3 separate regions of the Homo sapiens genome follow, and regions 1 and 3 are each linked to region 2. Evidence: fine-mapped expression QTL. A gene starts in region 2. Each other region holds a variant in brackets. All regions are shown on one strand. Distances are from middle to middle. Region 1 overlaps LOC105379167 (a long non-coding RNA gene). Region 2 holds the start of FBN2 (fibrillin 2). Region 3 has its middle 33 kb from the start of FBN2.

Region 1 (2,758 bases), 120 kb before region 2:
AAAGACAAAGATTAACCACAGAACTCTAGGGAACACCAATGTTTAAGGAGCAGGCCAAAGTATAGGAGCCCATTCCAGAAATTAAGATGGAGCCAAGGACAAACTTGAAGAAGTACCATGGAAGAGTAGTGCTACAGAAACAAGTGAAAAGGGAATTTAATAAGAGCATGGATATTGTTTGGTTTTGTGTGCCTGCCCAAATCTCATGTTGAATTGTAATCCCCAATGTTGGAGAGGGGTCTGGTGGGAGGGGATTGGATTGTGGAGGTGGATTTCCCCCTTGCTGTTCTTCTGATACAGAGTTCTCATGAGATCTGGCTATTTAAAAGTGTGGAGCACCTCCCCCCTTGCTCTTCCTCCTGCTCCAGCCATGTAAGATGTGACTGCTTTCCCTTCCACCATGATTGAAAGTTTCCTGAGGCCTCCCCAGTCATGTTTTCTCTGTGGCCTGCTGAGCAGTGAGCCAATTCAACCTCTTTTCTTTAGAAATTACCCAGTCTCGATTCCTGGGCAAGATGGCCGAATAGGAACAGCTCCAGTCTGCAGCTCCTAGCAAGATCAATGCAGAAGGCAGGTGATTTCTGCATTTCCAACTGAGGTACCCTGCTCATCTCATTGGGACTGGTTAGACAATGGGTGCAGCCCACAGAGGGGGAGCAGAAGCAGGATGGGGCGTCACCTCATCCAGGAAGTGCAAGGGGTTGGGGAACTCCCTCCCCTAACCAAGAGAAGCCATGAAGGACTGTGCCTTGATGAACAGTGCATTCTGGCCCAGATGCTATGCTTTTCTTACAGTCTTGGCAACCCACACACCAGGAAATTCCTTCGGGTGAGTACACCACCAGAGCCCTGGGTTTCAGCACAAAACTGGATGACCATTTGGGCAGACACCGAGCTAGCTGCAGGAGTTTTTTTTTCATACCCCAGTGGTGCCCAGAACACCAGTGAGACAGAACCATTCACTCCCCTGGAAAGGGGGCTGAAGCCAGGGAACCAAGTGGTCTAGCTCAGCAGATCCTACCCCCATGGAGCCCTTCAAGCTAAGATCGACTGGCTTGAAATTTTCACTGCCAGCACAGCAGTCCGATGTTGACCTGGGA[T/C]GCTCAAGCTTGGTAGGGGGAGGGGTGTCCACTATTACTGAGGCTTGAGTAGGCTGTTTCCCCCTTACAGTGTAAACAAAGCCGCTGGGAAGTTCTAACTGGGCAGAGCCCACTGCAGCTTGGCAAAGCCGCTCTAGCCAGACTGCCTCTCTAGATTCCTCCTCTCTGGGCAGGGCATCTCTCAAAGAAAGGCAGCAGCCCCAGCCAACCGCTTACCGATAAAACTCCCGTCTCCCTGGGACAGAGCATATAGGGGAAGGGGTGGCTGTGAGCACAGCTTCAGTAGACTGAAATGTTCCTGCCTGCTGGCTCTAAAGAAAGCAGTGGATCTCCCAGCACAATGCTCAAGCTCTGCTAAGGGACAGACTGCCTCCTCAAGTGGGTCCCTGACCGCTGTGCCTCCTGACTGGGAGATACCTCCCAGCAGGGGTCAACAGACACCTCATACAGGAGAGCTCTGGCTGGCAACTGGTGGGTGCCCCTCTGGGACAAAGCTTCCAGAGGAAGGAACAGGCAGCAATATTTGCTGTTCTGCAGCCTCTGCTGGTGATATCCAGGCAAACAGGACCTGGAGTGGACCTCCAGCAAACTCCAGCAGACCTGAAGCAGAGGGGCCTGTTAGAAGGAAAACTAACAAACAGAAAGGAATCACATCAACATCAGTAAAAAGGACATCCACACATAAACCACATCTGAAGGTCACCAACATCAAAGACCAAAGGTAGATAAATCCACAAAGATAAGGAAAAACCAATGCAAAAAGACTGAAAATCCCAAAAACCAGAAAGGTTCTGTGATCCTCCAAAGGATCACAGCTCCTCCCCAGCAAGGGAACAAAACTGGATGGAGAATGAGTTTGATGAATTGACAGAAGCAGGCTTCAGAAGGTGGGTAATAATGAACAGCTCTCAGCTAAAGGAGCATGTTCTAAAACAATGCAAGGAAGCTAAGAACCTTGAAAAAATATTAGAGGAATTTCTAACTAGAATATCCAGTATGGAGAAGAACATAAATGCCCCAATGGAGCTGAAAAACATAGCATGAGAACTTCATGAAGCACACGCAAGTATCAATAGCTGAATCGATCAAGCAGAAGAAAGGATATCAGAAATTGAAGATCAACTTAATGAAATAAAACATGAAGACACGATTAGAGAAGAAAGAATGAAAAGGAATGAACAAAGCCTCCAAGAAATATGGAACTATGTGAAAAGACCAAACCTATTTTTGATTGGTGTACCTGAAACTGATGGGGAGAATGGAAGCAAGTTGGAAAACATTCTTCAGGATATTATCCAGGAGAACTTCCCCAACCTAGCAAGACAAGCCAACATTCAAATTCAGGAAATACAGAGAACACCACAAAGATACTGCTCGAGAAGAGCAATCCAAAGACACATAATCATCAGATTCACCAAAGTTGAAATACCAGAAAAAAATGTTAAGGGCAGCCAGAGATAAAGGTCATTACCCACAAAGGGAAGCCCATCAGACTAACAGTGGATCTCTCTGCAGAAAACCTACAAGCTGGAAGAGAGTATAGGGGTCAATATTCAACATTCTTAAAGAAAAGAATTTTCAACCCAGAATTTCATATCCAGCCAAACTAAGCTTCAAAAGCAAAAGAGAAATAAGATCCTTCACAGAAAAACAAAGGC
Region 2 (2,758 bases):
ATGAGAAATGACCAGGACTTCACAGAGATTTCATGAAAGGAGGGCCACAAAGGAAGAACCCAGAGCAGGCCGGTGAGAGGCACTCTAAGAGGTACAGAGGGTTGCACCAATTGCTAGGATTTAATCAATCAGAAGGGGTCCAAGCCAGGAAGCAAGGGCATGCCCCGAGCCTCATTTACCCGCCTTGTCACCACCCTGCCCGCTAGTACATTTCAGAGTCTCTAACCCCTCCCTGCATGCAAGCCCAGGCAGAGTCCTGCCAGGTTTCACACCAGAGCACACCCCTGCACGGACTCCCCAGGACCGCGGCGCCGGCTGGCTGCCTCGGCCCCCCGCGGCCGCGTGAGCTCCCTCTTGGTGGTGGAGGGCGCATTTCAATCTGGAAACTCCCAGCCCCTAATTTGGTCCCGCAGACTGACGCCGCTCCCGGTGGGGCGGTGGGGGTAGGAGGGCAAAGGGGAGGTCTCCTCCTTCTTGGATTGAGGCTGCAACCAACAGCCCCGTGAGCCTCTATTCCTGGCTGACTGCGAATCCCCCCATCCCAGGTCAGGGGCCGGGACCCTACAGAAAGACCCGTTCTCATCCTCAACCTTGCGGCCTCTGTCCGGCGGGGAAGTTCAGCTGCGGGTCAGTTCAGCTGCGGGTCCGGCCAAGCCTGGCGCGCTTAGGCACCCTAGTCCCTGGTCCGCGGCCGGGCGAGGACGGAGGGGGAGGGGAAGGGGCTGCTGCCTCCTTTCCCAAATCCGGTCCCTAATCGCCCCATCCCCCGCCGTCTACTCGCTTTGTACAGGCAGTCAAAACAGAGCTAGCGGCCAATTGACGGGGACGGGAAGCAAAGCCGCCTAGCGCCTCGCCCCCTCCAGCCGGCCCCCCGGGCCCCTCCTCTCGGCGCCCGGACCTTGGCCCTCCCTCTCCTTTCCCACTTCTCTCTTTGCCCTAACTTCGCCCCCATCCCCCGCTCATTTCCTCTCGCACCCGGGCTCGCCAATCCCTCTTTCCAAGTCCCTCTTCCAGCCCGGCCTTCCTCTCGGGTTCGCCCCCCTTCTCCCCAATCTCCGTCCTCTTCCCTCCCTTCGCCCTCCCCCCCTTCCTTCCTCTTCCCCTCACCCAACCCTGGTTCCCCTCGTTCCTCAGTCCCGATCTCTCCCTTACTCTGTCCCCGCCCACTCTGCGCCGGCCTCTCAGTCCGGGTTGAGCCCCACGTGTGGACGGCCGCGCCCCCACTGACAGCCGCCGCCCGCCGGCCCGCCCCGCGCCCCGCCGGGCCTCTAAAACCCCCGCGCCGCGCCCTCCACCGCCGCATCTTCTCCAGCGCCCAGCCTCCCGCCCTCTCTCTTGCTGGCCGCACGCCCCGGCCCCGCGCACCTCCGCCCGGCTCCGCAGCCGCTACCCGCGCTTCGTTGCCCTGTGGGACTCCGAGCGAGCCCGGAGGGAACCCTCCTCTTCTTCTGGGGGCGACTTTTGTTTGCTTGCCTGTTTCTTTCTGGTGACTTTTGCAGCTTTCCAATATCCGTCTTCGGAGCGCACGGGAATCCGCCGAGCTCTGCGTGCAGGCCCTTTTTTCTTTTGAGGTTCACATTTTTTGAAATTTTACGCCAGGGCTTTTGTAATTTCCTCCCCCGCCCGCTGACGGTCCTGGAGTCGCTCGGGGCTTTAGGCCGGTTATGCAACGTGTACCGCTCGGGGCTGCCGGCTGCACCTCCGCCGCGCCTCGCCGCTCACTGCGCTAGACCCGGCGCCCCGCGTCTCGCTTCGCGGGCAGTCAGGGGGCCGGCGCTCTGTCGAGGTCTCCAGCTAGAGCAGGGAGCCCGAGCCCGAGGGAGTCCCCGGAGCCGACGAAGGGCTTATTAGACCCTGACTCTTTTCTGAGGCGCGCAGATTTTGTCTTTGATCACTCCCTCTCCGCGGGTCTACGGCCGCGCGCTTTCGGCGCCGGCGATGGGGAGAAGACGGAGGCTGTGTCTCCAGCTCTACTTCCTGTGGCTGGGCTGTGTGGTGCTCTGGGCGCAGGGCACGGCCGGCCAGCCTCAGCCTCCTCCGCCCAAGCCGCCCCGGCCCCAGCCGCCGCCGCAACAGGTTCGGTCCGCTACAGCAGGCTCTGAAGGCGGGTTTCTAGCGCCCGAGTATCGCGAGGAGGGTGCCGCAGTGGCCAGCCGCGTCCGCCGGCGAGGACAGCAGGACGTGCTCCGAGGGTAAGTGGGCAAGCGGCTCCGCACCTAGGGCTCCGGCTTGGGGGAGGGGGGAATCCTCAGTTTGGCGGCTTTCTGGCCCACTCCGTCCCAGACCCTTTAGCTGGAGCCTAGAGCTGCAGCCCCCTTTGCCAGAATATCCAAAGACCCCCAGGAGCGCGTCCCCCTTTTCCTTCCCAACCCCGCAGCTCAGCGGGCGGAAAGCCCTCTCTCCGGGGGTTGGGCGGCGGGTGGTTAGGGGGTCCAGGGGTGCCGATCGCAGAGCGTGTGCAGAGCTCGCGCTGCGGGAACAGGTTCTGAATGTCCGGCGGCAGGCGGGCCTGGGTCCGCCTGCTGCAGGGGCCAGAGAAGCCTGCTTGCTCCCCACGTCGGGGCCGCCGCTCGTGAGCCTTTTGTTTGAGGACGTGTGCAGGGTTCACAGCTCACCTTCTCATCGTCAACCCGAGCGCTCCACCTTGCGACGCGCTTTCCTTGACACGTCGGGGCCAAAGTAACAGTTGACCAAGGAGGAATGGATTTGGGAAGGAGGGCAAGGATTCTTTGGAACGGAATGGTCCCTTTGTTCTCTG
Region 3 (2,758 bases), 33 kb before region 2:
GTGCTTCTGAGACCAGCTTTTTTTCTTCTTTCTTTAATAAAAATAAGACTTGTCTACATTATGGGTAACATAATTAAACCAGGATAACACAAATTTGTTTAAATATAAACTCCAAACCATCAAGTTGCTTCATATGTTTGCATTCACTTATAAAATACGATCTCCTGAGATATCTTTCATTGGGCTAAACACCAAAACAAGCAAACAGATTCTGAAAAATAAAAAGACAGCATTCTGGGATTTCAAAGTTGACAAATTAAGCGTTCCTATGTAATAAAATGATTTCATCTTGGAATTATCTTTTGCTATTTAGTTTATGAACTCTACGTTATCCAAGCTTACATTTCATAAAAGTGTAAATATGTTTAACATAGATCACTTTTGCTTCATTACTCATGCTATTAGATTTTAAACCTTGAACCATAAGTCCTTGTGTGACTCCACTGGGAAATCCCTCATAGTGTTAACATTTTTTTACACTCAAGCGCTTGTTTACTCCATTTTCTCACTTTTTAACAAATTAAAGTTCCAATGTATTACAGCAGTTTTACATTTGTCTAGATAAGCCACAGAAAAGACTAACATAATTTAGGAAAGAGGCACAGAAGATAGTGCATGGTATCAGAATTCATGAGAAAGGGAGTACTGGATTGTTTTTTAATTTTCATCCAAAGTAACAGATGATCTCGCTTCCATCATTAAAAAACACGATTATATAAATACACATATAAGAAGTAATCTATAAGCAAGTGCAAACTAATTACGGTCTTAGGAAAGGGATTTTTGTTTTTTTACCCTTCCTCCAAGTCTTTTATTTATTTTTTGAGCTTTTTAAAAAAAACAACAAAAAACACAACCAAAAGAACTGACGAGAGGAAGACAAAGCCCCAGGATCAGCCAGAGACCAAGCAGCATGGGATGAGGCCCAGGTTGGGCCTAGCAGGATCTGTGGAGCAAGGTGGTGGAAAGTCCTGAGGCTTATGGTCATGTGGGGTCTGCAGAAGGAGAGGAGGTCACTTAAAAAGAAATACATATACATTACACATCTATACAAAGTGTCCCATGTTGAGGGAGTGAGGCGAGGTCATGGGAGCTGGCCCACTTTCTCCTCGGACCAGCCTCCCAACAGGCTCACTAGCTTGGCCAGCACAGGGACCCCTGTAGCTAGCGGTCTTCTTCTGTGGAGTGAGGGGAACATAACAATTTAGTTCCAGTTCCAACCCATGGTGGGCAGAGGTTGGTGGAAAGGGTTTTGTTTTTG[T/G]TTTTGGTTTTGGTTTTTTGTCTAAGTGTTTATGCTAGTGAGAAAATAGTAAAGAAATTAGCCGACATAGATAATATAGAGTATATATATTTTTAGATGCATTTTTCTAGAGAAAGAAGAAAAGTTATACTCTAGGTAATGCAACACATACAGAAGTTTGGAGATGGGACAGTAATAGCGTGACTGCAGAGATTCACGTTAGTGATTAATGATGATGATAATGGCTATAATTGAACAGTAATATTCAGGACTACAGAAAAATCTGATTCGTTTGACAGAGCAGAATATCTAAGACAAAGGAATTCCCAAATATGACGTATGGTAGTCTTTTAATGCAATCCAAAAAAGTTAGGGTTTTATTTTAGAAGCTATAAAGCTCATCTCTGAGCTGAGAGTGAGGAATATAACTTCTTTAATCTGGTTCTCTATAAAAATGTATCTATATAAACATGGGACTTACTATGAAATGAGGGTTGCTGAGGAGGCTAGGTAGAGTATCCAGTTTGGAGAAAAGTGAATTTGAAATAAGGCTAAAAAAATGGAGAGTTAAGATACTGAAAATTCTGTAAAGCAATGTTTAGGCAGGAGAGAGAAAAAGTAGAGAAGCACTATGGTTATCACTCTAGGGAAATCAATGGTGATCTGTTTTTGTATCAGTTCTAATGTCATCATAAAAAATCATTGCATGAAAGAAGGTCGCAATGTTTCAAGATCATTTTTTCAATGAAAAAAATAAACAAATCTAGTGAACACTAAAGGTTGCAGCCACCTCTATGTTGTTCTTTTGAAACACTAAAAGAATTAAATTTTTAAAATTATTCAATAAAACTTAAAAGATATCAACTTAACCATAAAAAAATCACTAAAAAGGTATAGGTGCAAGTATAACAAAAATTTACAGAAAAGAATTTTACCTGCTTTATATATTCGGGAAGGACAGACATTCAAGAAACAAGTTCCTTTATAATGAACGTCCTTTAAAAGAATTGCTTACATTTCTCTTCATAGTGAAAAAGGAGCCATTCTACATTTGAAAGGGAAAATCTTCTTATTTATAAAAGGCGTCTTCATCCAAGAATCTTAAATGTACTATGGCAATTGGCTTCAAAATATCTACCCCATAAATTGCTTAATATAGTTTAAAGATGGGAAATTTGAAACCATATGACTTTACTTTCCTGAGATTTTCACTATTTCAGAGGGATGAAGGAAAGGGAGACAGAAATAAAAAGAAAAGGAGAGCTGTGAAAAAGAAATTCAAACAAATCCATAATAAAAAAATTTGAGGAAAAATTAAAGATATAAGTCTCTTTACCACTCACATGTATTTTAGTTTTTCCTAAGGAAATACAATTTATTGAATCAACTGAGAAATTCCTTTGGTAGATGGGGAAAAAAAGCAAAAGTTGCTTATTATTTATTTGTTCTTTTTCAATATATAATGAGGGTTTTATTATATTTACATGGTTCAGAAAAAATTAAATTGATTTCCTGCAT

Evidence for each region.
Region 1: its variant is fine-mapped to the expression of FBN2 in whole blood (INTERVAL, PIP above 0.99).
Region 3: its variant is fine-mapped to the expression of FBN2 in whole blood (TOPMed, PIP above 0.99).

The regions. Positions count from the first base shown.
Region 1 is chr5:128,654,181-128,656,938 of GRCh38, reverse strand. The region is part of intron 1 of LOC105379167 (a long non-coding RNA gene); the gene reads left to right. Among named protein-coding and RNA genes, the nearest start is that of FBN2, 120 kb to the right of the region's middle. The variant T/C (reference allele first, on the strand shown) is at 1,101.
Region 2 is chr5:128,536,784-128,539,541 of GRCh38, reverse strand. It overlaps FBN2 (fibrillin 2), which reads left to right and starts at 1,297. Exons shown (of 65, transcript NM_001999.4): 1 at 1,297-2,192. The coding sequence starts at 1,939. RefSeq lists enhancers at 471-971, 2,697-2,758.
Region 3 is chr5:128,569,924-128,572,681 of GRCh38, reverse strand. No RefSeq gene overlaps it. Among named protein-coding and RNA genes, the nearest start is that of FBN2, 33 kb to the right of the region's middle. The variant T/G (reference allele first, on the strand shown) is at 1,262.